3 separate regions of the Homo sapiens genome follow, and all the other regions are linked to region 2. The links come from fine-mapping of genetic effects on gene expression. A gene starts in region 2. Each other region holds a variant in brackets. All regions are shown on one strand. Distances are from middle to middle. Region 1 overlaps QSER1 (glutamine and serine rich 1). Region 2 holds the start of QSER1 (glutamine and serine rich 1). Region 3 overlaps QSER1 (glutamine and serine rich 1).

Region 1 (11,077 bases), 75 kb before region 2:
CTCAGATTATTTGTGCACTTATCATGTACTCTGGTGTTTTCTATTTAAAACATGCACCTTGACAATTTTTGGATCCAGAATTATTATTTGCAACAAATAGAATTTAAAGTCTAAAGATTCTAAATTTGGAAACAACACACACTAAGTCAGTGGAGATGAAAGAAGAAAATTTAAATCTTTCCAATGACCACAAAATGCTTAAGATGATCTGAAGTACACAGATTTCAGAAAAAGGCAGAACATCATTACCTTGAAAAAGCTTCAGGACTCCTAACATCACCAAGATCAACATAGGAAAGCACACTAATTATTTCTAAAGAACAGAAAAATCTTTCTTTCTCTACTATTTGTAATATTTTACTTCAGATCAGTCTAACTCTTAATATTATGTAATTTTGCTTTGAAATGCAAATTGCTAAGGCTGGGCATGGATTACACCTGTAATCCCAGCACTTTGGGAGGCAGAGGCAGGCAGATCACTTGAAGTCAGGAGTTCAAGACCAGCCTGGCCAACATGGTGAAATCCTGTCTCTACTAAAAATACAAAAATTAGCCAGGCCATCCCAGCCACTCCAGAGACTGAGGCAGGAGAGGAGGAGGTTGCAGTGGGCGGAGATCGCGCCACTGCACTTCAGCCTAGGAGACAGAGCGAGAGTCTGTCTCAAAAAAAAAAAAAAAAAAAAAAAAGCAAATTGCTTTATATGACAATTATCAAAATTAATAACTAATAACAGAATTAGAAATCTTGTTAGAGAACTGGTTTGACATTTCAACAGTGATTAGCCAAACCTGGTAATTTTTAAGATTTAGTAAATCTTTAGAAAACACCTATCTAAAAATGTTCCCTTGTCTCCACAAAATATAGTATTTCACAAGAGAATATTTCATTTATTTAAAGGCAGCAGTTAAGCAGAAAACACTGGGCTAGGGCTGGGTGCCGTGGCTCATGCCTATTAATCCCAGCACTTTGGGAGGCGGAAGTAGGCGGATCACTTGAAGTCAGGAGTTCGAGACCAGCCTGACCAACATGGTGAAACCCTGTCTCTACTGAAAACACAAAAATTAGCCAGATGTGGTGGTGCATGCTTGTGGACCCAGCTACTTGGGAGGCTGAGGCAGGAGAATCTCTTGAACTCAGGAGGTGGAGATGGCAGTGGGCTGAGATCACACCACTAGACTCCAGCCTCGGCGAAAGAACAAGACTCCATCTCAAAAACAAAAACGAACAAACAAAAACTGGACTAGGAGTCAGGAGACCAAATTCTTAGTACTGGATTTCTTACTAGCTTCTAAATTTTTTTTCTTCCTGCGAATACATGGCAGTGAAGAATACATGACTACTATGATAGTTTTGTGTCATTTAATTTTGAATGCAATCTAATGGCCTCAGTTTTCACCTAATTGAAATGAAGTCAATACTCACTTTTACATGGAGTTCACATAAAACAGGGATGTGAACAAGTTATACAAATGTATAATATTGTTACCATCAATTAAAAAATGTTCCCTAAGGTAGATATAACCAAATGATTCTTGATGTGATATTATACTTTGAATAAGAAAGGCTACGGAGTAATCATTCTGTGATTCTCTCCCATGTGCACGTTAATAAATTTGCATGCCTTTTCTCCAACTGAAATAAAAAGCTCGGCCGGGTGCAGTGGCTCACGCCTGTAATCCCAACACTTTGGGAGGCCAAGGTGGGCGGATCATCTGAGGTCAGGAGTTCGAGACCAGACTGGCCAACATGGTAAAATCCTGTCTCTACTAAAAATACCAAAATTAGCCAGGTGTGGTGGTGGGCACCTGTAGTCCCAGCTACTCAGGAGGCTGAGGCACAAGAACTGCTTGAACTCAGGAGGCAGAGGTTGCAGCGAGCCAAGGTTGTGCCACTGCAATGTAGCCTGGATGACAGAGCTAGACTCTGTCTCAAAAAAAAAAAAAAAAGAAAAGAAAAGAAAAAAAGCTAGAAATTTTTAAACTACCAAGTTAGCTTCTATGAAAAATTATCTGAGTTGAGTTTAGATTAGCTTTTTCTATATTTCTGATAACACCAAAACCAACTTATATTGCCAAGATATATTAACATATAGAATTATATACATTTCCTACCCTTATAAAAATCAGCGTTTCCTCTGATATTGAATAAATGAGGCAAGTACGGTGAATTTTGATAACTGTGCTAAGGAAAAGCTAATTTTAATTACAGACAAAATGTAAAAATTTTGAAAAGCGTTAAAAGAACATTTGGAAATTATTTTATAGAAGATATAATAGATAACTATAAATGCCTAAAAAATAAATTTAAGTGGAGAAAAGCAAGTGATTAACACTAAGCAGACAAACTAAATGGACTTACAATGAATAAAAGCCAAATTTTCATTAGGTGAAAAATGTTGTAAGTGAATAATTTTCATAAATTTCCTTCCTATTATACTTAAGACTATGACTGCCATTGAGTTTTGCTAATAAGTCATCAGAAGGAAATACCTTGAATGATTGATCCAAATGAAGATTCAAAAGAAGTCTCTTTCGGTTATCATTTAGCATGCCATCTATTTTTTTCATATGAGGTAAAAGTAGCTCATCTGAAACAACATTATAATTTAACAGGATAAACTATCAATAAATATTTTTGAAAAAAATCCAACTTTTTCTCAAAACATTTATATATTAAAATACACTAAATTCATTGGCATATGTAAAATACTGATTGCAAAAAAATTGGACATGAAGCTTTCTGAACAAAGGTTAACTTGAAAAGTAGGTTTATAGTAGCAAGTGAGAAAGAGGCAGCTCAGTATGATGATGGGATGAGCACTACATGAGGATCCAAAGTTCTAAGTTTTAGCTGAACTACAACTGCTGGATAAACTAGAACTGGATTTTAACTGAATAGAACTGATATGTGGCAGCTATGTGACGAATAGGCAAGCTGCCTAATTCCTCCAGACCTCATTTACCCTCTGAACAATCTGAACAATTACAAAATACAAACTGATCTAACAAAACACTGAGTATGACCAAGGGATATTAAGTCACTTTAACTTGAAGCAAAGAAAAAGTAGGGGAAGAAAAATGATCAAAACCCAGTACCAAAAATATGAATCAAAATAGTTATTTTAGAAAAAGAGGGGAGAGTAAAATTATGACAAAGATTCCTATTCAAAGCTTTTGGCTTTCAGTGTCACCACTCTGAACTTTAAGCTCCATTAAGAAAAGTACTTTTAGAATATAATTAGTTTTGGTGTAGCATTAAACATTTTAGATTATTAGATTCTTTCTTAATTTACCAGCATAGTACTTTATTATATTTTATAATACTAACTGCCTCTAATAACCTTCTGAAAAAAAACAACAACCCAGAATCCAGGTCACAAGTTTCACAGCTAAGTAAAATGATTGTTTACATAGTCTTTCTATTAGTGATTCAATCTGTTCTAATACTGTATTTACATTCTACAAAAGTAAGTTTTAAACATTTGTGATTTAAAAATAATCTTAAAAAATTTTCTCCCCTTAGAGAAAAATCAGAAAACACTGATAAGCAATTTTTAAAAATCTTTCAAAATACAACTATACAGAAATGACTACTACAAAGAGAAGCATATTTTATGATGCAAGGAATATAACATTTAATAGCAAAAATGCTGACCTGGGATTAGCTGAGTTTTAATCATGGTTCTTCAACCTCTAACCTGTTCTTTAACTTTAATCTCTTTTGAACTTTAGTTTACAAAATAAATGTTTCAGACTAGGTAATATCTAAAGTCCCTTCCAGCTCCTAATTACTTGAAAATGACTGATATACAGGTTACTGTCTCTGATTAGGTGGTAAGAAAAGCACTAGACCAGAAATTAGAAGACTTTAATTTTAATCCTTTCTCTGCCAGTTTCAAGTTTGTGGGCCCTTAAGCAAGTCACTTAACCTCTCTGAACCTGTCTTAATCCACAAAATGGCTGTCTAAGTTGTTTTAAGGTTAAATTAGAATATATGTCTAAGTATGTGAACATAATAAAACAGTATATAGTCATGCACTGCATAATGACATTTTTGACAATGACAGACCACATATACAATGGTGGTTCCATAAGACTATAATGCCATATTCTTACTGTACCTTTTATTTTCTTCTTTAAAAAAAACTTTTTAAAAATTTCAATAGCTTTAGGGGTACAGGTGGTTTGGGTTACATGGATGAGCTGTATAGTGGTGAAGTCTGGGATTTTAGTGCATCCATCACCCAAGTAGTGTACATTGTACCCCATAAGTAGTTTTTCATCCCTTACCCCTTTCTCACCCTCTCCCCTTCTGAGTCTCCAATGTCCATTATACCACGCTGCCTTTGTGTACCTATAGCTTAGCTCCCACTTATAAGTGAGAACATGTGATATTTGGTTCTCCATTCCTGAGTTACTTCAGTTAGAATAATGACCTCCAGTTCCACCCAAGTTGCTGCAAAAGACATTATTTTGCTCTTTTTTATGGCTGAATAGTATTCACTATATTTTCTTTATTCACTCATCGGCTGATGGGCACTTTCCATATCTTTACAGTTGTGAACTGTGCTGCAATAAACACATGTGCAGGTGTCTCTTGGGTATTATTTATTTTCCTTTATGTAGATACTCAGTACTGGGACTGCTGGTGAGAATGTAAATTAGTGCAACTGCTATGGAAAACAGTATGGAGATTTCTCAAATAACTAAAAGGAATAATATTAATTGGTATAACCCAGTGCATTTACTGGTTTAATACTAATTTTAACTGATTAGAAAATAATTGCTATGATGTATCTTTTACAAAAGATACAAGTATATGATTTTAATCTTTATGCCACTTTTATCTGGTTCATCTTTCCAATTATTGGAAAATAAAATATACTGACATACAGACCTTTCATGTAATACTAACACTTAGTAAACTATTTATGAGGATGATTAGATTCTAGAATTGGAAGAAACTGGTTAGAAGCTATACAATTTTCCCATGAGTAGAAAGCAATAAAAGTTCAAATATTCAGAGAATGCATGAAAAGATATGACCATTTTATGGAATTAAGATGCTATATATTTAACTGACAATTTATAGGTATATATTACACAAGTCACATATA[AACATATAACTAACAG/G]ACAAGATTTCTTTTTTTAATTCCAGGAAGTACTACCAAGGAAGTACTACTTAGAAGACTGTACCATTGCTCTTCTCTAAGGCTTGCATTGTGTCAGGGTCCAAGGCAATGCTAACAAGCAATTCCATGTAGCTCTTAAAGGTTTCCTTCATTGCTCTTGTGTTCAAAAAGCGAGTGACAAAGGGAGCGGGAGGTTCAAATTCTGGGAGGGAGAAAGGGTTAAATATTAAATTTTCCTTCCTGACAATTTTAAAAACACTTTTCTCTATAACGAGACCCTAGAAGCAGATTGCAGATACAATTTCTTCAAATTCAAGACTTTCTCACCTTACCTTTAAAAGGTCTGAGGTTCTCAAAGCTGGTTTGCACATGACAATGACTGAAGAGCTTTGTTAACAATAGAACAAAAACCAGATTGCTGGACTTCCTAAAACAGAATCTTTGGTAGTGGTGGTGGTCGTGGTAGGGTGATGAAGCTTAAGTATTATGCTCTTAAAAAGCTTCCTAGGTGATTCGTGTGTGTGTGTGTGTGTGTGTGTGTGTGTGTGTGTGTGTGTTTTGAGACAGAGTTTCACTCTTGTTGCCCAGGCTGGAGTACAATGGCGCCATCTTGGCTCACTGCAACCTCCGCCTCCTAGGTTCAAGCAATTCTCCTGCCTCAACCTCCCGAGTAGCTGGGATTATAGGTACACACCACCATGCCTGGCTAATTTTTTTAGTAGAGAGGGGGTTTCACCATGTTGGCCAGGCTGGTCTTGAACTCCTGACCTCAGGTGATCTGCCTGCCTCAGCCTACCAAAGTGTTGGGATTACAGGCGTGAGCCACCACGCTTGGCCCTTCCTAGGTGATTCTGAAGCCCAACACCAGAAAAAGTAGACTGGGTAAGAAACTATTTGTCTTCTGCTGGATCCCACCACAGACATCTGCTGCTAGGTGGTGCTACTGTAGTCTTGATGGTTTCTCTGTTTAGTAGTAAAGAAATTGTATGACATCCAATGTATGAGTAATACATAGATTTCCTTTTTATTCCTAGACATAAATTACTATAAAATTCTTGCCTAGGATGTATTAAAAATGTTTAAAGTATGGCAGGTGCAGTGGCACGTGCCTGTAATCCCAACACTTTGGGAGGCCAAGGTGGGAGGACTGCTTGAGCCCAGGAGTTTGAGACCAGCTTGGGCAACATAGTGGGACATCGTTTCAATTAAAAAAAATATAAATTAGCCACGTGTGTGGTGGCATGTACCACTATTCCCAGCTACTCAAGAGGCTGAGGCGGGAGGATTGCTTGAGTCCCGGAGGTTGAGACTGCAGAGAACTGTGACTGCGCCACTGCACTCAAGCATGGGAAACAGAGTAAAGACCCTGTCTCATAAAGAAAAAGAAAAAAAGAAAAAAATCATTTTAATGTAAACACAGCCTGTGCACAGAGAAAATTTCATTCAAATCCAATGGAAAGAACTATGACATTAACTTGTTGGGTGCAGTGGTGCACACCTGTAGTCCCAGCTACTTGGGAGGCTGAGGTGGGAGGATTGTTTGAGCCTGGGAGTTCAAGACCAGCCTGGTCAATATAGCAAGACTCCATCTAAAAAAAAAAAGTTTGTTTCAATTTTGACTTTTTGTATTCAAATATATAATCAAGTCACACCCTTAAATAGCAGTTTTTAAAATATTTTTAATGTTGTGGGTATATAGTGTGCGTTTATGTGTGTGTATGTGTGTGTGTGTGTGTGTGTGTGTGTGTGTGTGTGTGTGTGTATATATATATATATATATATATGGTGTTTTTTTTTTTTCTTAGAGATAGGGTTTCACTATGTTGCCCAGGCTGGTCTTGAACTCTCAGCCTCAAGTGATCCTCCTGTCTCAGCCTCTGAAAGTGCTGAGATTAGCTGTAAGCCACCGTGCCTGGCCTATAGTAGGTGTATGTATTTTAAATAGCAGCTGTTAAAGTAACTGTACCCCAGGGGGGACCCCAAGACCCTTTTGGTGGTCTCTGATATCAAAACTGTTTTCATGATAATATTAAGATACTATGTACTTTCTTCACTGCATTGCCATTTGCAAAACTACTACTGGGTAAAATTGATGGTGCCTTACCCCACGAATCAAGGCAATGACAACAAACTGTACTAACAGTAATATACTTTGCATGACTTTGTCATGTCACTCACTACCATGTATTTGGAGGGGGAAAAAGTTTCACTTAGGAATAGTCCTAGGGGCTGGGCATGGTGGCTCACACCTATAATACCAGCACTTTGGGAGGCCAAAGTGGGAAGATTGCTTGAGGTCAGGAGTTCAAGACCAGCCCAGGCAATATAGTGAGATCCTGTCTCTACAAAAAAAAATTTTAAGTTAGCTAGGTGTGGTGGCATGCGCCTGTAGTACTAGCTGCTTGGGGGCCTGAAGTAGGAGGACTGTTTGAGCCCAGGAGTTCAAGGCTGCAGTGAGCTAAAAAGGTGCCACTCTACTCCTGCTGGTGATAGAATAAGACCCCATCTCTTAATTAACAACCAGAACAGTCTTAGGGCCAGGTGAGGTGACTCATGCCTATAATCCCAGCACTCTGGAAGGCTGAAGCAGGACAATGGCTTGAGGCCAGGAGTTTAAAACTAGCTTGGGCAACATAGTAAGACCCAGTCTCTACAAAAAACTTTAAAATTAGCTGGGCATGGTGGTGCATACCTGTAGTCAGTCCTAGCTACTTGGGGGACCGAGGTGAGAAGATTGCTTGTGCCAGAAGTTTGAGGTTACAGTGAATTATGATTACACCATGCACTCCAGCCTGGGTGACAGAGTGAGACCTCTCTCTAAATATACAAAATTTAAAAAGAGCCTGGGCAAGGCTGGATGCGGTGGCTCATGCACGTAATCCCAGCATTTTGGGAGGCCGAGGCGGGTGGATCACGAAGTCAAGCATTCAAGACCAACCTGGCCAACATAGTGAAACCCCATCTCTACTAAAAATACAAAAAAGTAGCCAGGCATGATGGCGGGCGCCTGTAATCCCAGCTACTCGGGAGGCTGAGGCAGGAGAATCGCTTGAACCTGGGAGGCGGTGCAGTGAGCCGAGATCGCGCCACTGCACTCCAGCCTGGACGATAGTGCGAGACTCCGTCTCAAACAAACAAACAAACAGAGCCTGGGCAACATGGAAAAACCTTGTCTCTACTAAAAAATACAAAAAAATTAGCGCCTGTAGTCCCAGATACCCAGGAGGCTGAGGTGAGAGGATCACATGAGCCTGGGATATTGAGGTTGCAGTGAGCCTTGTTTGTACCACTGCACTCCAGCCTGGGTGACAGAGTGAGACCTTGTCTCAAAAAAAGATAAAACAAAATAAAAATTAATAGTCCTTGACGAAGAAGTAATTATTAATTTTATGAAATTTCTATTCTTGAATAGATGTCTTTTTAATATTCTGTGTGATGAAATAGCAGGTACACATAAAGCACTTCTGCATAAATATAATGGGTATGACCAGGAGGAGCACCCATACAGTTGTGTGAGTTACAAGATAAACTAGCCATTCTTTCCCCCAAGAAAACAAGATTTTTATTTGAAAGAATGACTGACAGATACACTATGCCTATCCAGACTTGGGTATTTGGCAGACCTTAATTTATTCTTAAAAATAAATTAAGAGAATCTGCTCATTCAAGGAAAACAACTGATGGTATTTGTTGCCAATGATAAAATTTGAGATTTCAAGTGAAAATTAGAGTTCTGGACATCTTCTATCCCCACTGTGAGTCTGAGCTTCCCAATTTGTAAAGACTTCATTAATGAGATCATTCATAGAATTGATGAGTGCTATTTTTTGATAGTGTAAAATGAAATATCTGACCTTAAGAGCTAGAACCATAAAACTCTTAGAAGAAAATGTAGGAGTAAATATGTCCTTGGATTTGGCAATGGATTCTATGTGAACAAAAGCTGAGTAACAAAAGAAAAAATAAGTAAATTGGGCTTCATCCAAATTTAAAACTTTTGTGCATCAAAGGATATTATCAAGAAAGTGAAAAAGACAACCTACAAAATGGGAGGAAACATTTTCAAATTATGTATCTGATTAAGGGTTTAATATCCAGAATATATTAAAAAACTCCTACAACTTAACAACAAAAAGACAAATAACCCAGTTTAAAATGGGCAAAGGATCTGAATAGACATTTCTCCAAAGAAGATATACAAATGGCCAATAAGGACATAGAAAAAATGCTCAGGACATGGAAAAAATGCTCAACATCATTAGTCACTAGAAAAATTCAAACTGAAACCACAATGAGATACCACTTCACACTTGCTAGGATGACTTTAAAAAGACGCACACACAAACAGAAAATAACAAGTGTTAGCAAAGGATGTGGAAAAATTGGAACCGTCATGCTTTCCTGGTGGGAATATAAAATGGTGTAACCATGTGGAAAACAGTTTGATGGTTCCTCTAAAGGCTAAACATAGGATTATTATGTGACAATAGTAACAATTCTGCTTCAGGTCTATGCCTCCAAAATTGAAAATAGGAACTTAGATACTTGTATGCCAATGTTCATTACACCAATTATTCAGTTAGCCAAAAGGAGGAAATAACCCAAATACCATCAATAAAATGTGGTGTAAACATACAATGGAATATTACTTAGCCATAAAAAGGAATGAAGTTATGATATATGCTTTTACATGGATGAACCTAGAAAACATTTTGCTAAGTGAAAGAAGCCAGACACAGAAGGAAAAATATTGTATAATTCCACCTATATGAGATATTTAGAATGGGCAAAATCACAAATACAAAAAATAGGTTAGAGGTTACCAGTAGCTGGAGGAAAAACAGATTAGAGGTTACCAGTAGCTAGAGAAAAAAGAGAATAAGTAGTTGTTGCTTAATGGTTACAGTTTCTGTTTGGGATGATAAAAGTTTTGGAAATATAGGTGAGGGTTATACAACAGTGTGAATGTAAATAATGCTAATAAATTGTACACTTAAAAATGGTTAAAAAGGCAAATTTATATTTAACCACAGTGTTTTAAAGTGTGAAAAAAATTAATTATTGGAAGATCTATATCACTGAGCTAACTAATATTTTCACATGACCAATGAACAATGTTATAAAACCATGCATGGATGAGAGATATGTAAAGTTAAGACAAACCAATAGATTTTAATGTAATAGCATGAAAACTCAAGAAACTACTACTTGTCAGTATCAGGAGTATCTATGAGTATCTGAGAAGGCAATTGAAATCCTCCTCCTTTTCCTAACTACATACAGGAGGAGTATTTCCATTGCTTTCTCAGTTAAGTACGGATATTCTTGATACTTTAGCCAAAATAACATATAATAACAAACTGAATGTAGAAGCAGATATGCACTTATCTCACTAAATACTGTTAGTTTTGGAAAGTATAGTTGTTTTAAAAAAAACACCTCACATTAATAAGTAATGGGTTCATTTTAAATAAATATTTTAAAACTTTGAATTGGTATTTAGTAAATTTCAATAGATTTAGCACACATAAACCAAAGTATCTGGAATCCTCAATGTGTTTGAAGATTCCATTGGAGTCCTGAAACAAAGAGTCTGAAAATCACCAGCCTATGAATATATGTTTATTATCAATATTTGACTTCTTAAGAGAACTAAATACATTCTTTAGCCTGAGAATGTAAAGCAAGGAACAAAAAGGCCTAAAAATGTTTGCTTAACTATTAGTGACACCTAGTGGTCACTCAAATTACCAAGGGAAGAAAATGTTACCTTGTCATTTGAAGAAACTATAATTGAGAGCAAATTCAGAACAAACGTTTTGATTCTAAGCAGTAGGCAAGACTGCTAACTGCAAAAATTATGTATAATGCCTTCTATGCATATTCAAGGCACTGAATTTCCTTACCTATTCTGATTATATATTTCTTTTTTCTTTTTTTTGAGA
Region 2 (11,077 bases):
ATGTACGTGTGACTTAAAACAGCTAGCACAAATTAGTTGCTAGTGATGTAAATGACAGCTACTATTACTTACAACACGGTTTCCATGGGAAAAAACTTTCTGAACTCTAACAGTGGAAGTTTGTCTGAAATAACCTTTCATTAACTTGAGATTGTTCTTACGCCTTACAAATTATGATCTATAAGGCCTTTTCCCAAAAACCTTGAGGAAAACTCTAGATTTGAAATGTATCAAACAAATGTCCATCATATAGAAACTGACAGGTTTTAGAAGAGCTAATCATTACTTTGGTTTTTCAGAGGAGTATTTATCATACTCATTATACCTCATACTAAAAAAAAGTATGCATTAGGAATTCTAAAAACTGGTGCCAAAAGTTATTTCAAGTTAGAAAGGCAAAAAACAGGCCAGGCACGGTGGCTCACACCTGTAATCCCAGCACTTTGGGAGGCCAAAATGGGCGGATCACCTGAGGTCAGGAGTTCAAGACCAGCCTGGCCAATGTAGTGAAACCCCATCTCTACTAAAAATACAAAAATTACCAGCCTGGCCAATGCGGTGAAGCCCCATCTCTACTAAAAATACAAAAATTAGCCAGGTGTGGTTAGCTACTCAGGAGGCTGAGGCAGGAGAACTGCTTGAACCCGTGAGGCAGAGGGTGCAGAGAGCTGAGATCACGCCGTTGCACTCCAGCCTGGGCAACAAGAGCGAAACTCCATCGCAAAAAATAAAATAAAATAAAATAAATAAACCTATTTAAATACAAAATATTTCCATTCCCTTACTTTCTGGTGCATATTCAAATACGAACACATCGATTATCACCATAAAACAGCCTGCCTCTTCCTGTTGTGACCAAGATATAAGTATCAAGTACAGAATGCGGCAATGGATCTGCAGACTCTTGATGACCTTCTTATTTCCCAAGCTATGCAAAGGTATTTACAACATCCAAAACTGCACCCCAAAAGGTATTTCCAACTGCGTGGTGTTCAGCAAAGGACATGTTCATTCATTTAGTTCCTAAAACGAACTGAAATTAGCATAAATAAATGAAGATTTATATGGCCAGTCCTTATCCCTGTACTTTCCAAGTACCTAGCAAGTACTCTGAGAAATATTCAAAAATCTTTCTATAAGCCCCATTTAAGGTATAATGCTGGAGTTTCCCACTCTATTTTTCCACTGTTAGTACAATAAAACTACCTAATAACTAACAGAGCTGTTGTATTCAAAAAAGTATTGTTTCAAACTCATGAAAAGCTGTTTATCATGTACCTTCCCATCAACTGATGAAAATGATGTATTTCAAGACCAAGAAGGCATAAAGTAGGATGTTAGATCCCTGTCGGCAACAACTGAATGTCATTACCATCTGTCAGCTTCTGAATAGGTTACAGGAAACAAGGTGACAGACAGGCTAATTCTTTATGGATAAGTATCCATATTACATCATCACAACTAGTACTCATTTGCACCTTCACAAGAAACTGCCACAAAGGGGAACAAAAACATTCAACTGATATGTGCATTATGAAAAAGCTTTTTAAAATGGTATAAAAATATAAATAAGCTTCTGAAGTGTAGAATATTTAGACTTACAAGGCATATTTCAGATTTGCCATTTTTGATATAACTGAAATCAAAGGGAATATTTGCACAGTTTGAGGAATAAAATGAGGTATAATTCAGAAGTGTAACTCTGTACAGATGGCCTGATCCCAATACAAGATGTTAACAAAGCAGGCTGGCGGGGGAGGGGGGTAAACCTGCATTTTCTATGCTGTATTTTAGCTGATTCCCCCCACCGCTTATTTTTTAAAAAAGCAGGGGGAGAGGGCATGAGGGGTAATATTTAAGATTCAATAACTTCTAGTAAACAGAAAATAAATCTCCTTTAGATTATGTGTGCCAAGTGAATCTACTTACTGTTTTCAAGTGTGTTTGGGAAGTCATTTCGTGTTACTCTGATAAATAACATTTGGAAAATATGACAAGTAGATTTTAGTTTCTTGCCTCAGAAGTATTCTACTAAAAGAAGTAACTAGGTAGTATTTCAGTTCCATTTACCTAATAAATATTTTTCATTTAAAAGATAAAAAATGCGGCACAAATACCTATCATGCTGTTCAATGATGAGAAAGTAATTTTCATTTGTAAATTATCCTAGTCAATGCAAAAAGCTACTTGAAAAAGATAGTCAAATTACCATCAGCAAGAAATAATGGGTGAAGTGCCAAACGTCTTTCATGAAACTCCTTAAAATGGCTTACTTGTATGTAATACAAAATTATGGCTATTTCTGAAAGGTTTCAGCATTTAATTACTTAGCTCCAAATTGGCACATCACATTATTTTTGTTAACTCCCAAGTCTTGAAAACAAAGGGCCTAAAATTTTCTGAGAAAGCTTATATTCCTATTCTTGAAGCAAATTTTTCTCATTCTTTCACAATCGTCCCAATGGACAATCTAAGACAAAGACCAGCTACCCTTCACACTTATTTGCTCAATCATGAACGTAGAACTTTCGTAAAAACAAAGAAGATAACCTGGAACACGGTAATGTATAAACTTAAAACAAAAGTTCACTTCTGTCGTGAAAAATAATGAAGAAATCTGATGAGATCATAAAGCCACGAAGCTTCCTGTTGGTAGCTGAGGATGAAGTCATTAGCAACCCAGGATTCCCTGGTCCATGTAATCAGAAGCTGCACCTACCAGATTCTGTATTGTTCGGGAGAGGTGGCTTTAAAACACCCCGCTCACCAATTCTCCAAACCAGACCACGCCTTCCAGTTATCATTCAAATGGGACCGTTTCACAGTGTGGCACTACTACACATTTCCCGCGAGCTTAAATATCAAGTAGGAGTCAAAATTTTAGATTCCCTTGGTCATGCAAGATGAACTCTTGAACCCCACGCTACATAATGCACCCGGACCTTAAAGGCCGAGATGGAGAAGCATGCTTTGGTTCTTCAACCTTTACGGCCTTCACTACCCCCACCCCAACCCCCGCCCCATTTCTTCCCAACTCTCAGTCACCCCGAGGCATAGAAGGCAAAGAAAGATTCCTTACTTCCTGCTGTTGTTAAAAGGGGAGGAAACCTAAGAGCAACTTTGAACGCGTGGAAGAAAAATCGCCTAAATCTTGGCCACCAGCGCAAACATATGTCACCCGGCCCTGGAGCCGCGTTCGCGCCCTGCCGGGCCCCCTCTTCTGCCCTGCGCCCCGGGGATTCTCCCGTAGCCCAGCCCTCCCGGGCCCCCCAGTGTCTCCGGGACGCGGTTCCGCGACTCTTCCTCTCCCGCCTCCGCAACCCTCACACGCCGGAGTCCCCAAGACCGCATTGTCGGCCACCCAGGTTCCAATACAATGGATCGCCACTGCCCCAAACTCTCCGGCGCCCCCTTCGGACCCCCGGCGCCAATCCTGGGTCTCACAGATCCCGAGTTCAGCCACGAGCCCAAACTTCACCATGTGAGAGCCCAGGACCCAAGAGGTGACGGAGCCCCACGACTCCCGCCCAGCTATTCCTTCACCCGCCGTCCCCAGGCGCGAATCCTGCACCGGGCGCCCCCACCTACCCGCGACCACCCCGTAGGAGTCATCAGCCGCCTCCCCCGAGCTGGCCGAGGGCGAGCGGAGGGCTCCCCGCCCGGCCCAGACCTCTGGGCGGCGCTGCAACCGAGCGAAGGCCCCAAACGCATCCCCGGCCTTTCCTGGTCCACCGCGACCCCGCCGCCCACCCTCCCTACCTGGCCTTGAGGCTGGGGCTGCTGCCGCTACTGCAGCTGCCACTGCTGCAGCTGCTGCTGGCGGCGGCGGCGGCGGCTCGGGGTTCGTACGCCCAGGCTGGGGCGGGGGGCTGCGCAGCGGCGCTGGCGGGGACGGGGGCGGCGGGGGGCGCGGGCGGCGGCGGCGGCGGCGGCTCGGTGAAGCCCGAGGTCGCGTAGTTCCTGTCCATCGTGGGGGTGGCGTAGGGAGGGCGGGCAGCAGCGGGGGATCCTCCAGGGCTCCGTGTGACGGGGGCGGGCAGGGAGAGGGGGCGGGGGAGGAAGAGGGGGCGGCGGCGGTGGAGGGAGCTGCCCCCTCACATGGCCCCGGCGAGCAGGCGGGAGAAGGGCGCGCTGGCGAGTCTGGGCCGCAAAGACCCGGGCCGCGGCGGGCGGCGAGGCCCCAGCTGGGCGTCAGGGAAGCGGAGGCACCCGCGGCCGGGACTCGCGGCGACGGCGGCGGCGGCGGCGGCCGCTGCGCCCCATGTTGGTGGATTTCCCAGGATGCACCTCCCGCCCCCCTCCGCCCCGCGGCCTTGCCCCGCCTCCCCTCTGAGCCCCGCGCTTGCCGCTCGCGGGGCTGGCGGGCGGCCGCGAGGCCTCCGCCACCGCAGGACGCTTCGCGAGGGACAGTTGGGGCCGAGAAGGCGCGGGTCCTGCGGGGCCCGGCCGACTTCAGGGACTCCGAGGGGCGCCCGCCAGCCGGAGCCCGCGAACCGCAGACTTCCCGCCTTCCGCAGCCCGGAAGGGAGCTGTCCGCACTCGCCGCGGCCCGCGTGGGAAGGGACCGCGCCTGGCTATCGCCCCGCGCGGGGGAGGGGAAGTGGAGTGGAACCCAGCGTAGGGCGCTGCTCAGGGGTAGCCGGGTCAACGCTTTGCTTGGAGCTCACTATTTGACCCTTCGGGTTATTTTGAGGGACTCCAGTACTCAGTTCCCTGATCGCGATTTCTTTCTCTGCGCCCCAATCCAGAAACAGCTGAGCGAGCTCTTTTGCAGTTCCGCTTACTCCCTCCCCAAAGCTTGCTGGGCTAGAGGACCCTTTTCCTGCTGTTAGGGGAGATTTATATTCAAAGAGATTCAAATTCAAACGTATTATTTTCCAATCCTCGCTGAAAGGGCCTTTCCCAAGGGCTCTTATTAACTGTCCCCACCCCCACCTTGGGGATTTTTCTCGCTCTGGGTTTCAGAATCTTCTATCCCAAGATAGATAACCACCTCTTCATTGATTAATCCAACTACCATCTGGATGACTTTAATTACAATAAATTTAAACTCACCATGCACTCTGATGTTGAGGGGTTTTGTTTGAGACTTGGAACTTCAGCAGGACTCTCTCCCCAAACATTTCCTATCTGATCTCCAAGCTGCTTGGTGTGCGGTAATTTAATGACTATTTGCGGTTCTTCTGTTGCATAGCAGAGTTGTATTTCTTGTAATAACTCACAAGTATTGAAACTAGGGAATCGTACAAATCATCGTTTGGCCCTTGGGCCATAAATTTAAAGGTTAAAATAACAGTAAAATTTCTATTTAATGACCACCTCCTTTTAAAAATCAATATTGGTTTAACACCTATTATGTGCTTAGCACAGAAATCTATCCCTCAAGATAAGCATAACATAAAGGTTTAAGCAAATCAGCCGTAGTGAAAGACCTAATAAACTTGATACGCTATCTCTGATGACCATTGAAAAAGTTTAAACTTTGGTAATAATCTGGTGTTGGATCTGCTATGCCTTGCGAGATTAATTTTGTTCTGGAAGATCCTGTTTTCCTCCTGGCGCCTACATCCTTTTGTTCCTATTCATTCCTTTTTGCAAGTCTTTCTGCACCTGTGATGCTTGGAGCCTGGTCCCCGGGTGGGGAAGCAAGGAAGTGAGTAGTCGTTATTTACACATGAATTCAAACGTGTAGGCACAGCGACTTTGCCAATTTTATGTTAATTACAAAATGCATTTACTGAGGATATCTTTGAAAAGTGGTTTTTCTTTGAAAAGGAATTTGCGAACTAATCTGAGTTCATGCAGAGAAGTAACGTAAATCTTCATTACATTTATTTTTCTTCCTGCAAACTGGAAATGTGGGATCTAAATTAAAAAGTTTTCACAACTAGCTATTATATTTATAAGTACTTTTGTGAGCGCTAAAGTTTTGTCTCTATGAAAAGTATAGGAAATGGAGTGGCATGCTATAAATGTTTTATGACACTTAGTTTGAGATACCCACAACTGGCACTCAGAGTGAGTTACGCAGGCAATACCAAACAAGTGGCAATAAAACCTTTATAGTCCCTCACACCATTATGTAGTTTGTTTATGTCACATAAATCAGGGAAAGATATTAAGGGAAAATTCTAGTGAGTATTTTTAGTAATATTACTCTGTCACCATATGTTCCTTTGCCATTTAAATGAAATTTCCTTAGTTCACTCTAAATCAGTACAATTATATTTATTTTCAAATGTTACATGTCTACAAATAACATCATTACATTTTTTATCAATACTATTTTTAATTGACAAATCATAATTGCATACATTTATGGGGTACAATGTGATGCTTTGATATATGTAAATAAATCTTTTAAAAATTTTGTACACTTGATGATACTATCTGAAGAATGTCTTCTTCCCTACTGAAAATATACTTCCAGCTCTGTGAACGTTTCGGGATCTCTCAAATGATTCGTAACCAAGCTGCTTCAAGTCTGATCTAGGTAATGTCAAACTCTAGAATGAGCATTGTTGGTCCCGTGTTTTTGTTTGTTCGTTTTTTCAGACAGTCTCGCTCTGTCGCCCAGGCTTGAGTGCAGTGGGGTGATCTCGTCTCACTGCAACCTCCGCCTCCCGGATTCAAGCGATTCTCCTGCCTCAGCCTCCTGAGTAGCTGGGAATACAGGCGCATGCCACCACGCCCAGCTAATTTTTTTGTATTTTTAGTAGAGACGGGTTTCACCATTTTGGCCAGGCTAGTCTCGAACTCTTGACCTCAGATGATCCGCCTGCCTCAGCCTCCCAAAGTTCTGGGATTACAGGCGTGAGCCACCGCGACCTGTGAAATACGTATTGATTTTCTAATGGGATGGGAGTTAGGGTGGAAAATGTGGGGAGATTGTTCATGGGCATGTTCTAAGGCATGACTAACTCTAGACAATAAACTCAGAAGGAAGTGGGAGATGGAGGTGAGGAAGAAGGAAAGAGTTTTTTTTGTTTTTTTTCAGACAGGGTCTCGCTATGGTGTCCAAGGCTGGTCTTGAGCTCCTGGCCTCAAGCAATCCTCCCACCTCAGCCTTCCAAAGTGCTGGAAGATTCCTTCTTAAGTGTAGGATTTACTCCAATTCATCTTAAAACCAAACTGCCTTTGATTTAATCAATTTTCAAATCTTGCCCCGATTTTAGAATTGAGATAGAGTGTTTTGGTTTTTCTTTTTTGGGGGGGAAAGGAAAGGAATATGTAAATGACTAATTGGAACTTCTGAATGGGCATTTTTTTTTCTTAGATAGCGTCTTGCTCTGTCGCCCAGGCTGGAGTGCAGTGGCGCGATTTCGGCTCACTGCAAGCTCTGCCTCCTGGGTTTTACGCCATTCTCCTGCCTAAGCCTCCCGAGTAGCTGGGACTACAGGTGCCCGCCACCACGCCCAGCTAATTTTTTGTATTTTTAGTAGAGACGAGGTTTCGTCGTGTTAGCCAGGATGGTCTCGATCTCCTGACCTCGTGATATGCCCACCTCAGCCTCCCAAAGTGCTGGGATTACAGGCATGAGCCACCGCATCCAGCCTGAATGGGCATTTTTAAAGTAGCTTACATATTTATTCATTCAATAGATATGTATTTAGAGCCTAATACAGTGCCAAGCATAATACTAAATGCTGTGAATACGAGGGTAAATTTAATACAACGCCTGTCTTTATGGAACCTGTAATTTATGAGGAAAAGAGGCAGACACACAACTAATTGTAATGCAATAGGATAGTGTTAAATATAATAGAAATTGGAATAAAGCACCAGAGGACAATTGAAAAGGAAGTAATTGATTTTGCCTCTCAAAAAAAAAAAAAAAAGAAAATAAGTATTTCAACTGGTAGAAAGATTGTAGTTCTATTGAGTACATAGTTCATTGCCTTCCTTTTGTAGTTGAGGAAGCTGAGGCCTGGTATTGAGTGACTTGCTTTAAGATGATGGAGGGAATCAGTTGGGGTGAGACCCAGGAAACCCCATCTTCACTGAGGTGGCCTTGTTCATTAGCTTGTTGGGAAATGCAGAATTTGGGGTTGCCTAACTAGAAATGTAGTCAGTAAGTCCACACATTCCTATGTTATAAATAGACCAACCATCAAGAAGAAAGATCCAAGAAGGTCAAGTTTGTGGTTTCACTGAGAATACAAGGAATATGTGTGTGAGAAGTGATTTGAACAGGGAAAGAAGATATGGTTTTAAATTTTTCCCTTCTCTTCTGGCATTGAGGGAAACTATAAGCCCTGTCTTTGCCAGAGCAGCCCTGGTTTCCATCTCTTAGGTCAACATCATAAATTAAATTAAAACATCAGAAAGGAAATAAAAATTAGCCAGGCATGGTGGTGCACCTGTAGTCCTGAGAGGTGACAGCGTGCTGGCAGCCCTCGCTTGCTCTCGGCGCCTCCTAGGCCTTGGCGCCCACTCTGGCCACACTTGAGGAGCCCTTCAGCCCACTGCTGCACTGTGGGAGCCCCTTTCCGGGCTGGCCAAGGCCAGAGCCGGCTCCCTCAGCTTGAGGGGAGGTGTGGAGGGAGAGGCGGGGGCAGGAACCGGGACTGTCCGGGGCGCTTGCGGGCCAGTGCCTGTTCTGGGTAGGCGTGGGCTCGGCGGGCCCCCCACTCGGAGCTGCCAGCCAGCCCCGCCAGCCCTGGGCAGTGAGGGGCTTAGCACCTGGGCCAGCAGCTGCTGTGCTCGATTTCTTGCCGGGCCTTAGCTGCCTCCCCCGGGGGGCAGGGCTCGGGACCTGCAGCCTGCTATGCCTGAGTCTTACCCCCTGCTGTGGGCTCCTGTGGGGCGGAGCCTCCCCGATGAGCGCCGCCCCGCTGCTCCATGGCACCCAGTCCCATCGGAGGCCCAAGGGCTGAGGAGTGTGGAGCACTGCGTGGGAGTGGCAGCCAGCTCCACCTGCTGCCTGGTGCGGGATCCACTGGGTGAAACCAGCTGGGCTCCTGAGTCTGGTGGGGACTTGGAGAACCTTTACGTCTAGCTTAGGGATTGTAAATACACCAATGGGCACTCTGTATCTAGCTCATCTAGTGGGGACGTGGAGAACTTTTGTGTCTAGCTCAGGGATTGTAAATGCACCAATCAGCACCCTGTCAAAACGGACCAATCAGCTCTCTGTAAAGTGGACCAATCGGCTCTCTGTAAAATGGACCAATCAGCAGGATATGGGTGGGGCCAGATAAGAGAATAAAAGCAGGCTGCCCGAGCCAACAGTGGCAACCTGCTGGCATCCGTTTCCACGGTGTGGAAGCTGTGTTCTTTCGTTCCTTGCAACAAATCTTGCTGCTGGTCACTTTTTGGGTCCACACTGCCTTTATCAGCTGTAACACTCTCCGTGAAGGTCTAGCTTCACTCCTGAAGCCAGGGAGACCACGAACCTACGGGGAGGAACGAAGAACTCCAGACGCGCCGCCTTAAGAGTTGTAACATTCACCGCAAAGGTCTGCAGCTTCACTCCTGAAGCCATCCAGACCACGAACCCACCAGAAGGAAGAAACTCCGGACACCCTCCGTTTAAGAACTGTAACACTCACTGCGAGGGTCTGTGGCTTCGTTCTTGAAGTCAGTGAGACCAAGAACCCGCCAATTCCGGACACAGTCCTAGCTACTCCAAAGGCTAAGGCTGGAGGATCACTTGAACCCAGAATTTCGAGGTTACAGTAAGGAATGATCATGTCACTATGCTCCAGGCTGGGCAACAGAGCAAGACTCTGTTTCTAAAGAAAAATTAAAATAAAAAAAGTTAGAAGGAAACTAAGTCCCACTATAATTTTCTCTGTCTCTGAGGCTTGACCCTATCAATCATCTTTTGACTCTGCTCATTGTTGTCTGCCATACCCCTCCAGGGAGACAGCAATGGAATCAGGAAAGCTGCTGTTTAACCCTGCTTCTCTGGAAGCTGCAGCCTCACTAGGGGGTGTCCCTGAAAGAGCTTCAAGAAACATACTTGATCATCAATTTTGTGCGGAGAGGTAGTTTTCTGAGCTACGGATATGGAGGGACTTTGGGGCACTGATGAATGGTTTCGTTGATCAAGGGCCTGCAGTAAGCAAGGTTGAATGATTAGAAACCAGGAGGTCTGGGAAAGGAGTACAATTTAAGTATGAACTGGAAAGACAAGGCTGTGGCCTTGTCATGAAGTCTTTCACTGAGAGGACATTTTATCTCCCTAAATAGATTACAGGAGATTTAAACCTGTAGGTGAGAGTGATTCTCATAAGAATAACTGATACATATTGACAATGTATGTCTTAGGTCCTGTGCTAAGGGCTTTATGTGGAATTGTCACAATCCTCCTAAGATCCTTAAGATGTGGATATTTTTTATTATTAATCCGTTTTACAGGAAATTGAAGCTTAGTGAAATTAAGTAACTTTCCCAACATTGTACAAGCTAATATAAGACAGTGATGCAGGCAGGGCCTGGTGGCTCACGCGTGTAGTCCCAGCACTTGGGGAGGCCCAGGTGGGCGGATTGATTGAGCCCATGAGTTCGAGACCAGCCAAGGCAACATGGCAAAACCTGTCTCTACAAAAAATACAACAAGTAGCTGGGTGTGGTGGCGTGTGCCTGTATACCAGCTACTTGGGAGGCTGCAGCAGAAGGATTACCTGAGCCTGGGAGGCAGAGGTTACAGTGAGCTGTGATGTTGCCATTGCACTCTAGCCTGGGCAAGAGTGAGACTGTCTCCAAACAAAAAAACAAACAAAAAACCACAATGATGCAAGTGGAGCTTCAAATCAGCAATTTGACTCCAAACCAAATAGGCTTGGTTAAAGGAGTTACTGCCAGATTTCTCCTCTAAAGAGTTACTACATTTTACTTTGTAATCAATAAGTATTTCGTGGATACTTGAATATTGTGTAAATTCCTGAGGCCGGTGCAGTGGCTCACTCCTGTAACCTCAGCACTTTGGGAGGCCGAGGCGGGCGGATCACCTGAGGTCAGGAGTTCGAGACCACCCCGGCCAACATAGTGAAACCCCATGTCTACTAAAAATACAAAAATTAGCCGGGCATAGTGGCGGGCACCTGTAATCCCAGCTACTCAGGAGGCTGAA
Region 3 (11,077 bases), 59 kb before region 2:
TCCAAGATACTGAGGAAGGAAACACTTTGAGTTACATAATTGAACAATCTAGATACAAATGCTACTTTGTTTGTTCAATTGACTATCCCATAGCCAACCTTCAAGTTTTCTAAAATGCAGCTCTGGCCAGGCTAATTTTACCCTCAAAAACTGATCCCAGGCTCATTATTGATTTCATATGTACAAGCAATCTCATTTGGCATATTCTTACTTCCAGCTACATTAAGTATGACAGAATAACTTCCATCAGTCTTCTGGTAAATCAGGATATTTGACTAGTAGAATAATCAATATAAAGGAGCCTCTGAGTCAATCTGAACTCTTCATAGGCTAACATTAATCCCTTTCCTTTATTAAAAAAAAAAGTTAAACAATAGTACAAGGTCATTTAATTTTAAATAGCTGATATTTAACAAATGACTTTATTTTTATATTAGACTATCAAAGAGCATCAATATTCTAGTTCAAATTATATGCTACTTTATATCAAAAATATTCAATATAAAATACTTCTATATTTAAATCATTGTTTTTCTCAGGACCACTGTCAAAATAAGGCTAATGTAAACATGCATTTTACTTACACTATTTGTAGCAGCAAATTCTCTTTGACCATCTCGAATTTCAGGAACAAATTTCTGTAATAAAGCTTTTTGTACTTTCCAAATAGCTGGAGGTTCTTTTCCTGTTTTTAAAGCCTCCTGTAATAACCAGAATTAATGATACTTACAAAACACAGCAACATATTTTAGATCTTAGAATATTAGAGATGAAAGGAATCTGAAAGGCCTACCCTAGCTCAACCTTTTATCTCACCTCTCTATCTGATATTCTGCAATAATTCTTATAAGCTGGTTAGGTTATTCAGTCTCTGCTTAAATTATTCCAGAAATAGGGAGTTCATTAGCACACAAAGTAGCCCATTACCCATTTGTGCAGCTAAAACTATTGGAAAGTTTTCTGCTAATGACACTGTCCTATGTTACATATGCAATTTTATAACTATGTATATATACATATCTTAAAAGACCATAAACAAATACATTAAAATATTAAAAGTAGTTAACTGTGAATAGTGAGAATACAGACACTTGAATGTTGGATTCTTCACTGCACTTTTTAACGTCATTCCCATGTTTTTTAAAAAGGCAAAAGTGGCTGTATGCAGTGGCTCATGCCACTGCATGAGGATTACATGCCTGTAATCCCAGCACTTTGGGAGGCCAAGATGGGAGGACTGCTTGAGGCCAAGAGTTTGAGACCAGCCTGGTCAACATAGCATGATCCCATCTCTATTTTAAAAAATACATAAAAAGGCAAAAAAGCAAAGCAAGCAAACAGAAACCCCAAAATATGTTATTTTAAACACAGCTACAACTTTCTTACATAAAATTATTACATTCTCTTCATGGTTATACAACTTGAAATTATGAAATTAAATCTAATTCTACTTTTACATGATAGTTCTCTGTTATTTTTGTTTAAACTTTTAAATTATATAAATAACGATTTTCTCCAAACTACTAATAATGAATTGGGAACCTTGAAAAAAGTCAACATTTTAAAACTACTATAATTACTAATACTGAAATGCAACTGACTACATTTGTACAGAAATACGTACAACTAAGTTAAGGTTAAAATTATCTTCAATGATATCTGACATCTACTCTTAATATTTTGATTTTATCAAACACTTATAATGCATAAAACTTCCCATAATTCAAAGTAGATGCATGCTATTGAAGTCATAATGAAGGCTATCGCAGGCACACTAACTAAACTATGACCTTTACACTGGTGAACACTGACATCACCTTAAAAGTCTCTATGTCTTCTATCTTTACCACAAATTCATCACGCTCTCTGTATTGGCCTTCTCCTCCGCTTTCTGTGTCCTCCTCATCTGTAAAACCTTCTATGGCAACAGTGTCCTGTCCTTTTGCAAACTGGTCTGAAGGAAGACCATCAAGTTCAATGGGCTTTGAGGATTCTGAAGAGCTTATATTTTCCAGAATATTTACTGCATATGAAGTAGAGTGGAGAGGTTCTTGCTTAACTGCACCCACAGTGGTTGAGGAAGTAGTAGCAGTACCAGTAGTATTGGCAGTTGGGCTAGTAGTTGCCACCTGTAGGGCTTCTGAAACAAAACCAAGCAAATGCAAATCAGTATTACAAATATTTAAACACTTGTTTTGTGTAAAACTCAAAACAGTTTAAAAAGAAAGACTTGATTATTTTGTAATCAAACTGGTTGAAACAAAACCACAGGAAGAAATTAGACAACAGATGTTAATTTCCAAGAATCAAAGATGTGAGAATTAAGTCTAGATGACAAGTAGACTGCAAACCTGCAACTATCTACCTATCCTCCCGCTGCCAATTCCATGTAAGTAGAGCAAAATTATTTTTAAAAGAAGAGGCTGGGTACAGTGGCTCACACCTGTAGTCCCAGCCCTATTAAAAAAATAAAAAATTAGCCGAGCATAGTGTTGTGTGCCTGTAGTCTCAGCTAATCAGGAGGATGAGATGCGAAAATTGCTTGGGCCCAGGAGTTCAAGGGTTACAGTGAGCTATGATAGTGCCACTGCACTCCAGCCTGGGTGACAGAACAAGACCCTACTTAAAAAAATAATAATAATAAAAATAAAGACATGAAAGTGATAGAAGATAAGGAAGGGTCGGCCAACCAAAACTGTGACTCTTCATAGAAGATGAAAAACCAAATACATGTGGGAAAAAAAAAAACCCAAAACATTCTGAAACAGCACTAGAAGCTATCAAAATTAAAATGATTATAAAGTAATACTATGAAAAACTGTATGCCAACAAATTAAATAACTTAAGATGAAATGGATAAATTCCTAGAAAGACACAAAATACTAAAAAAGATTGGGGCCATGCACGGTGGCTCACACCTGTAATCCCAGCACTTTGGGAGGCCAAGGCGGGCAGATCACGAGGTCAGGAGTTTGAGACCAGCCTGACCAACATGGTGAAACCCTGTCTCTACTAAAAATACAAAAATTAGCTGGGCGTGGTGGTGCGCGCCTTTAATCCCCGCTACTCAGGAGGGTGAGGCAGGAGAATAGCTTGAACCTGGGAGGCAGAGATTGCAGTGAGCCAAGACTGTGCCACTGCACTACAGCGTGGGCAAAAGAGACTCTGTCTCAAGGAAAAAAAAAAAAAAAAAGACTTGGGAAGAAATAGAAAATCTGAATACCCCAATACAAAGTAAAAAAAAAAAAAGTAATTTTAAAACATCCCACAAAGAAAAGCACAGGCCCATATGGCTTCACTGGATAATTCTATCAACAATTAAAGAAGATATCAATCTTTTATAAACTCCAAACAATAGGAGGAAACACTTCCCAACTCATTCTGTGAGGCCAGTATTATTCCAATACCAAAACCAGACAAAAACAGCATGAGAAAACTATAGACTAATATCCCTTAGTATATAAATACAAAAACCCACAATGAAATACTAGCAAATCCACCAACATACAAAAAGAATCATACAATATGACCACGTGGGATTTATCTTAGGAATGCAAAGTTAATTTAACACCTGAAAATCAATGTAATACACTGTGTTAATAGAAAACAGCATAGGAGCACAGGATCATTTCAATAGGTGAAGAAAAAGCATCTGACAAAATGTAATGCCCTTTTATGATAAAAACATTCAACAGCCTGGGAACTTCCCCAGCTTTACAGAGGACATTTAGAAAAAATCAGTAACTAACATCATACTTAGTGGTGAAAACTGTATATGCTTTCCTCCTAAGAAGGATATCTGAAGAAGCAAAGCTATATTTGCAGATGATATGATCTTGTATATAGAAAATCCCAAGGCCTGGGCGCAGTGGCTCACGCCTGTAATCCCAGCACTTTGGGAGGCTGAGGCGGGCGGATGACCTGAGATCAGGAGTTCGAGACCAGCCTGGCCAACATGGTGAAACCCCATCTCTACTAAAAATACAAAAAAATTAGCCAGGCATGGTGGTACACACCTGCAATCCCAGCAACTTGGGAGGCTGAGGCAGGAGAATTGCTTGAATCTGGGAGGCGGAGGTTGCAGTGAGCCACGATCTCACCACTGCACTCCATCCTGGGCAACAAGAGCGAAATTCCATCTCAAAAAAAAAAAAAAAA[T/AT]CCCAAGGAATATACTAAAAAACTATTAGAACTAAAAAATGAGTTCAGCAAGATTGCAGGGTACAAGACCAATATATAAAAATCACATGTATTTCTATACATTTGCAGTGAACAACCCAAAAAATAAAATTAAGAACACAATTCCATTTCTAATAGCATCAAAAGTAATATTTAGGAATAAATTTAACAAAAGAACTGCAAACTTACATTGTAAAAACTATAAAAACACTGTTCAAAGAAATCATAGAAGATCTGTATAACTGGAAAAACATCCCATGTTGATGGATGAGAAGACGCAACACTGTTAAGATGGCAGTGTTCCCCAAACTGACCTATGGAATCAACCCAATTCCTATAAAAATCTGAGCTTCATTTTTTACAAAAATTGACAAATTGTTCCTAAAATTCATATGGAAGTGAAAGGGACCCAGAATAGCCAAAATGATCTTGAAAAAAGAACAAAGTTGGCAGACTGACATTTCTCAATTTCAAAACTTACCATAAAGCTATAGAAATACAGACTGTGATACTGACACAGACATAGATACAAATCAATGGAATAGAATGAAAGTTCAGAAAGAAACTCCTATACTTATGAGCAAATGATTTTCAAAAAAGGTGCCAGAACCATTCAATAGAGAAAGAATAGTTAACCATCCTACTAGGATGATTATAATTAAAAATATAGACATTAACACATGTTAGCAAGAAAGTGGAATGAATGGAATCCTTATAGATCACTGATGAAAATGTAAAATGGTACAGCCACATTGGAAAATAGTTTGGCCATTCCTCTATTAACCATGCAGATATATGACTGAGGAATTCCACTTCTGGATGTGTACCCTAGAGATAATAAACATCCATACAAAAATCTGTAAATGAATGTTTACAGATTTATTCATGATAGCCAAAAACTCTATCAATGGATAACTGAATATACAAAATGTGGTATATCCATATTATTAGGGAATAAAAAGGAATCAGATACTGATACATGCTACAGCATAGATAAACCCTGAAAACATTATGCTAAATGAAAGAAGCCAGTTACAGAAGGTCACTTATTATAGGATTCCCTTTACATGAAACATCCCAAATAGGCAAATCTACAGAGAGAGAAAGATTTGTGGTTGCCTATAGCTGGGTGTGGGTATGGGAATGGACTCCTTAATGGATACAGGGTTTCTCTTTGAATGATACAAATGCTGCACAAGTCTATGAACCACTGAACTGTACACTTTAAATGGGTGGATGTTATTGTATATGAATTATAATTCAATAAAACTATTAAAAAATACTTCAAATACCACAGCTGATAGAGGAACTTTGGGCTAAGGAACAAATATAAATAACATGTAAAATTCCAGTGGTAAGTCTGAATAATACTGATGAACTAAAATAATCACATATACAACAATAAGTAAATAAAAATGGGAAAGCCAGGCCAGGCACAGTGGTTCATGCCTGTAATCCCAGCACTTTGGGAGGCCTGGGTGGGCAGATCACTTAAGGTCAGGAGTTCAAGACCAGCCTGGCCAGCATGGTAAAACCCCGTGTCCACTAAAATACAAAAATTAGCCAGGTGTGATGGCAGGGGTCTGTAATCTCAGCTACTCGGGAGGCTGAGGCAGGAGAATCGCTTGAACCTGGGAGGCGGAGGTTGCAGTGAGCCTAGATTGCAACACTGCACTCCAGTCTGGGTGACAGAGCAAGACTCCCTCTCAAAAAAAGAAAAAAAAAGGGAAGGCCAGTGATCCCCTTAATTGTACTAAGCTGTAGGCAGAAGGGGTGTTTGACCATAGGCTAAAATGCAAAAGCTGTACTCTGAAGAGAGTGAATTCTACTTGCCTAGAGTGGTGGAGGAGCTGAGAGAAAACCAAAGCAGGGCCTGAGGCAAATCCAGACTTCCAACACAGAAAAAGTGGAAATGCAGACTGGCAGGGGAAATCCATGAACTAAAGTGCTTGACAAATAAAGACCTCCTTGTTGCTACCAGCCAGCCTACCTGTTCTTGTCCCAAATTAAAGCTATTCTCATATATTTATACATTTCCCACTCAAGGGAAAAGACCTGTTGAGGAAATACAGATGAATATTCTAATCACGTTAGGAGCCCATACTATGTTATTTTATCCTAACATATTTCTATAATGCTATAGTTACATTGTCATACTTTTCTGTCACAAAAATATGTATGTAAATGGAAACTGATTTGTCTTGTAACTGAAGGCTCAAAATGTTAAACATTTCTAACATTATACAATTGCATAGTTGATCCAAATTATACTATCTTTTCACATTTTGACAAGTATTAAATGTAAAACTCATGCTTCTGTTGGACATGGCACTTAAAAATTATTCATACATGGATACATGGACAGTACTTATTGAGATAGATTTTACAACCAATTTTATTTGTCCTTCACTTTTATTGATATAAAAACTTAGAAACCATGTTCATATAAATAATGGGTAAATTAAGGAATAAAAGTGACTTTGTTATAGCAATGTCACTGACTTCTACAAATACTTTCTAAGTTATATGTCAAAACAAGTCACATAGTTATCTGTGAACAAAAACAGAGATGCTGCAGCAGACTCTGAGAAAAGGAAATACTAAAGGTATTTTAGTATTTAGTCTGCTTTAGTCAGATAATCCCAAGGAGAAGCTATGAGATACAAGAATGAATGAAGGGTAAACTGGGAAATATATAAGTAAATGTAAACAAATGACTATTTAAAAGACTATTAATGATGATAGAATTAAATATGTAGTAACAATAACATTTATGTCAGGAGGGGATTAAATGGAGCTCCAGTGTTAAAAAATCTGTATTATCCAGAAAAAGGAAGATATTGACAGATTTGGAGAAGCTAAAAGTGCATGTTGTAATTTCTATTGTAACCAGGAAAAGAAAAGAAATATTTCACCAAAATAATCAGGGAGTGGGCACCTAGATAAAGGTATGAATCAAGCAAGATGGACCACATGATTATTGAAATGGATGATGCCCCCAGAATTGGGTTTCATTATGCCAATCTCTGTACTTTTGTATATGTTTGAAAATTTCTATGAAAAAAGCAAAATTTTTTTAAAAAAAGAATGTATAACTTCTAGTAGAGGGAAAGTTCATCAATACTTTATTTATATGCCCTTTGTAGGAAGTTTTAAAACAAACCAAAGAATAGTTTTGTTTTGTTTTTTTAAGAGATAGCATCTAGCTCTGTCACCCAGGCTGGAGTGCAATGGTGTGATCCCAGCTCACTGCCCCCTCAAACTCCTGGGCTCACCCGATACTCCTGCCTCAGGCTCCACATTAGCTAGGACGACAGGCACATGCCAACATGCCCACCTAACTGTTTTTTTGTTTTTTGTAGAGATAGGCTCTCACTATGTTTCCCCAGCTAAAAAGTATAGTCTTTAGAGATGCATACATAGATGGTAAAATTATATTAAGTAAGGAAGTGATTACCATCCAAGTCAGTTAGTGATTTGCTCTAGAGGTTAAGAGTGAGTTTAATTTAATACTCAATTAATTTCGATATTTTCTTGCTTTCCAGTGAATGACATTTAACACTATAAATTTGCTTCTTCACATCACACTCTGGCCACATCCTATTAGTTTCAGTATACAGTGCTCCACTGTCCATTCCAATTAGTTTGTCATTTCAGTTTTGGTTTCCTTTTTAAGCCAAGAGTTATTTGGAAGGGTGAGTTTTTCTTTGTTCCTTTCTTTGTTCTTTCTAGAAACGGCTGCACTGTACCCAGGGAATACTGCTTGAATAATGTCTGCATTTTCAAATCTGTGGAAGTTTTGTTTTGTATTTTTCTTTATGCATGTTTGATTTTCACATGTGGGTTGTATTTCGCAAGAAAAAATGTTCCAAAAGAAAACATAGATATGGAAAAATACTAAAAAAATGCTAATAACAACATTAGTATGACAGTATTAAAAACAGAAATCATTAAGTGGGAAAAAGAGATTTTATTATGATAAAAGGAAATTTAACTGTAGTAAAATTTTATGCACTGAATTACATGGGTTCAAAATATCAAGTAAACAGTATTAGAAAAATAATATAACATAATGGAAAACTTTAACACACCTTTCTCAGGAATCAACAGATCAAGCAATCTAAAAACAAATAAGGGTAGAGAGGAGTTTTAAAACTTTTTATTATTATAAAATTTTAGACTACACAAAAGTAGAGAATACAAACCCTACTATAACCCAGCTGTAACAAGCACAAACATTTTGGTTCATCTGTTTAATCTATCCATCACTCCCTTTTATATTTGCTGGGCTATTTTAAGCCAAATTCCATACATGTCATTTATCTCCAAAATATACACACATATAAACATTTTCTTAAATAACCTAATATCATTTATTAAATAAAAAAGATATAAAGGATTTGAACACTATTAATGAAATCTATTAGTACTTAGTATTTATAAAAAGTGGAATATCTATAAAAATGGACCATTTACCAAACTACTAACAAAATTTCCATAAATTTCAAAATGTGAACATATTCCCTGAACACAATACAAAAGAGTCAAATTAATAATTAAAACAGGGGGAGGAGCCAAGATGGCCGAATAGGAACAGCTCCGGTCTACAGCTCCCAGCCTGAGCGACGCAGAAGACGGGTGATTTCTGCATTTCCATCTGAGGTACCGGGTTCATCTCACTAGGGAGTGCCAGACAGTGGGTGCAGGTCAGTGGGTGCACGCACCGTGCGCGAGCCAAAGCAGGGTGAGGCATTGCCTCACTCGGGAAGCGCAAGGGGTCAGGGAGTTCCCTTTCCTAATCAAAGAAAGGGGTGACGGACGGCACCTGGAAAATCAGGTCACTCCCACCCGAATACTGCACTTTTCTGACGGGCTTAAAAAACGGCGCACCACGAGATTATATCCCGCACCTGGCTTGGAGGGTCCTACCCCACGGAGTCTCGCTGATTGCTAGCACAGCAGTCTGAGATCAAACTGCAAGGTGGCAGCGAGGCTGGGGTAGGGGCGCCCACCATTGCCCAGGCTTGCTTAGGTAAACAAAGCAGCCGGGAAGCTTGAACTGGGTGGAGCCCACCACAGCTCAAGGAGGCCTGCCTGCCTCTGTAGGCTCCACCTCTGGGGGCAGGGTACAGACAAACAAAAAGACAGCAGTAACCTCTGCAGACTTAAATGTCCCTGTCTGACAGCTTTGAAGAGAGCAGTGGTTCTCCCAGTACGCAGCTGGAGATCTGAGAACGGGCAGACTGCCTCCTAAAGTGGGTCACTGAACCCCGAGCAGCCTAACTGGGAGGCACCCTCCAGCAGGGGCACCCTGACACCTCACACTGCAGGGTACTCCAACAGACCTGCAGCTGAGGGTCCTGTCTGTTAGAAGGAAAACTAACAAACAGAAAGGACATCCACACCAAAAACCCATCTATACATCACCATCATCAAAGACCAAAAGTAGATAAAACCACAAAGATGGGGAAAAAGCAGAACAGAAAAACTGGAAACTCTAAAAATCAGAGCGTCTCTCCTCCTCCAAAGGAACGCTGCTCCTCACCAGTAAGGGAACAAAGCTGGACAGAGAATGACTTTGACGAGCTGAGAGAAGAAGGCTTCAGACGATCAAATTACTCTGAGCTACGGGAGGACATTCAAACCAAAGGCAAAGAAGTTGAAAACTTTGAAGAAAATTTAGAAGAATGTATAACTAGAATAACCAATACAGAGAAGTGCTTAAAGGAGCTGACGGAGCTGAAAACCAAGGCTCGAGAACTACGTGAAGAATGCAGAAGCCTCAGGAGCCGATGCGATCAACTGGAAGAAAGGGTATCAGCAATGGAAGATGAAATGAATGAAATGAAGCGAGAAGGAAAGTTTAGAGAAAAAAGAATAAAAAGAAACGAGCAAAGCCTCCAAGAAATATGGGACTATGTGAAAAGACCAAATCTACGTCTGATTGGTGTACCTGAAAGTGATGGGGAGAATGGAACCAAGTTGGAAAACACTCTGCAGGGTATTATCCAGGAGAATTTCCCCAATCTAGCAAGGCAGGCCAACGTTCAGATTCAGGAAATACAGAGAACGCCACAAAGATACTCCTCGAGAAGAGCAACTCCAAGACACATAATTGTCAGATTCACCAAAGTTGAAATGAAGGAAAAAATGTTAAGGGCAGCCAGAGAGAAAGGTCGGGTTACCCTCAAAGGGAAGCCCATCAGACTAACAGCGGATCTCTCGGCAGAAACTCTACAGGCCAGAAGAGAGTGGGGGCCAATATTCAACATTCTTAAAGAAAAGAATTTTCAACCCAGAATTTCATACCCAGCCAAACTAAGCTTCATAAGTGAAGGAGAAATAAAATACTTTACAGACAAGCAAATGCTGAGAGCTTTTGTCACCACCAGGCCTGCCCTAAAAGAGCTCCTGAAGGAAGCGCTAAACATGGAAAGGAACAACCGGTACCAGCCGCTGCAAAATCATGCCAAAATGTAAAGACCATCGAGACTGGGAAGAAACTGAATCAACTAACGAGCAAAATAACCAGCTAACATCATAATGACAGGATCAAATTCACACATAACACTATTAACTTTAAATGTAAATGGACTAAATGCTCCAATTAAAAGACACAGACTGGCAAATTGGATAAAGAGTCAAGACCCATCAGTGTGCTGTATTCAGGAAACCCATCTCACGTGCAGAGACACACATAGGCTCAAAATAAAAGGATGGAGGAAGATCTACCAAGCAAATGGAAAACAAAAAAAGGCAGGGGTTGCAATCCTAGTCTCTGATAAAACAGACTTTAAACCAACAAAGATCAAAAGAGACAAAGAAGGCCATTACGTAATGGTAAAGGGATCAATTCAACAAGAAGAGCTAACTATCCTAAATATATATGCACCCAATACAG

Evidence for each region. PIP is the estimated chance that this variant, and not a neighbour inherited with it, causes the effect.
Region 1: its variant is fine-mapped to the expression of QSER1 in whole blood (INTERVAL, PIP above 0.99). The same link has a PIP of 0.9 or more in T cells.
Region 3: its variant is fine-mapped to the expression of QSER1 in monocytes (Quach 2016, PIP 0.91).

Annotation. Positions count from the first base shown.
Region 1 is chr11:32,960,557-32,971,633 of GRCh38, reverse strand. It overlaps QSER1 (glutamine and serine rich 1), which reads right to left. Exons shown (of 13, transcript NM_001076786.3): 9 at 5,197-5,334; 10 at 2,491-2,588. The region is part of intron 2 of LOC105376615 (a long non-coding RNA gene); the gene reads left to right. Among named protein-coding and RNA genes, the nearest start is that of DEPDC7, 50 kb to the left of the region's middle. The variant AACATATAACTAACAG/G (reference allele first, on the strand shown) is at 5,118.
Region 2 is chr11:32,886,017-32,897,093 of GRCh38, reverse strand. It overlaps QSER1 (glutamine and serine rich 1), which reads right to left and starts at 4,283. Exons shown (of 13, transcript NM_001076786.3): 1 at 3,760-4,283. The coding sequence starts at 3,968. RefSeq lists silencers at 3,511-3,910, 3,991-4,610 and an enhancer at 5,358-5,932.
Region 3 is chr11:32,944,920-32,955,996 of GRCh38, reverse strand. It overlaps QSER1 (glutamine and serine rich 1), which reads right to left. Exons shown (of 13, transcript NM_001076786.3): 5 at 1,818-2,140; 6 at 585-701; 7 at 1-9. Among named protein-coding and RNA genes, the nearest start is that of QSER1, 58 kb to the right of the region's middle. RefSeq lists a silencer at 8,889-9,039. The variant T/AT (reference allele first, on the strand shown) is at 4,159.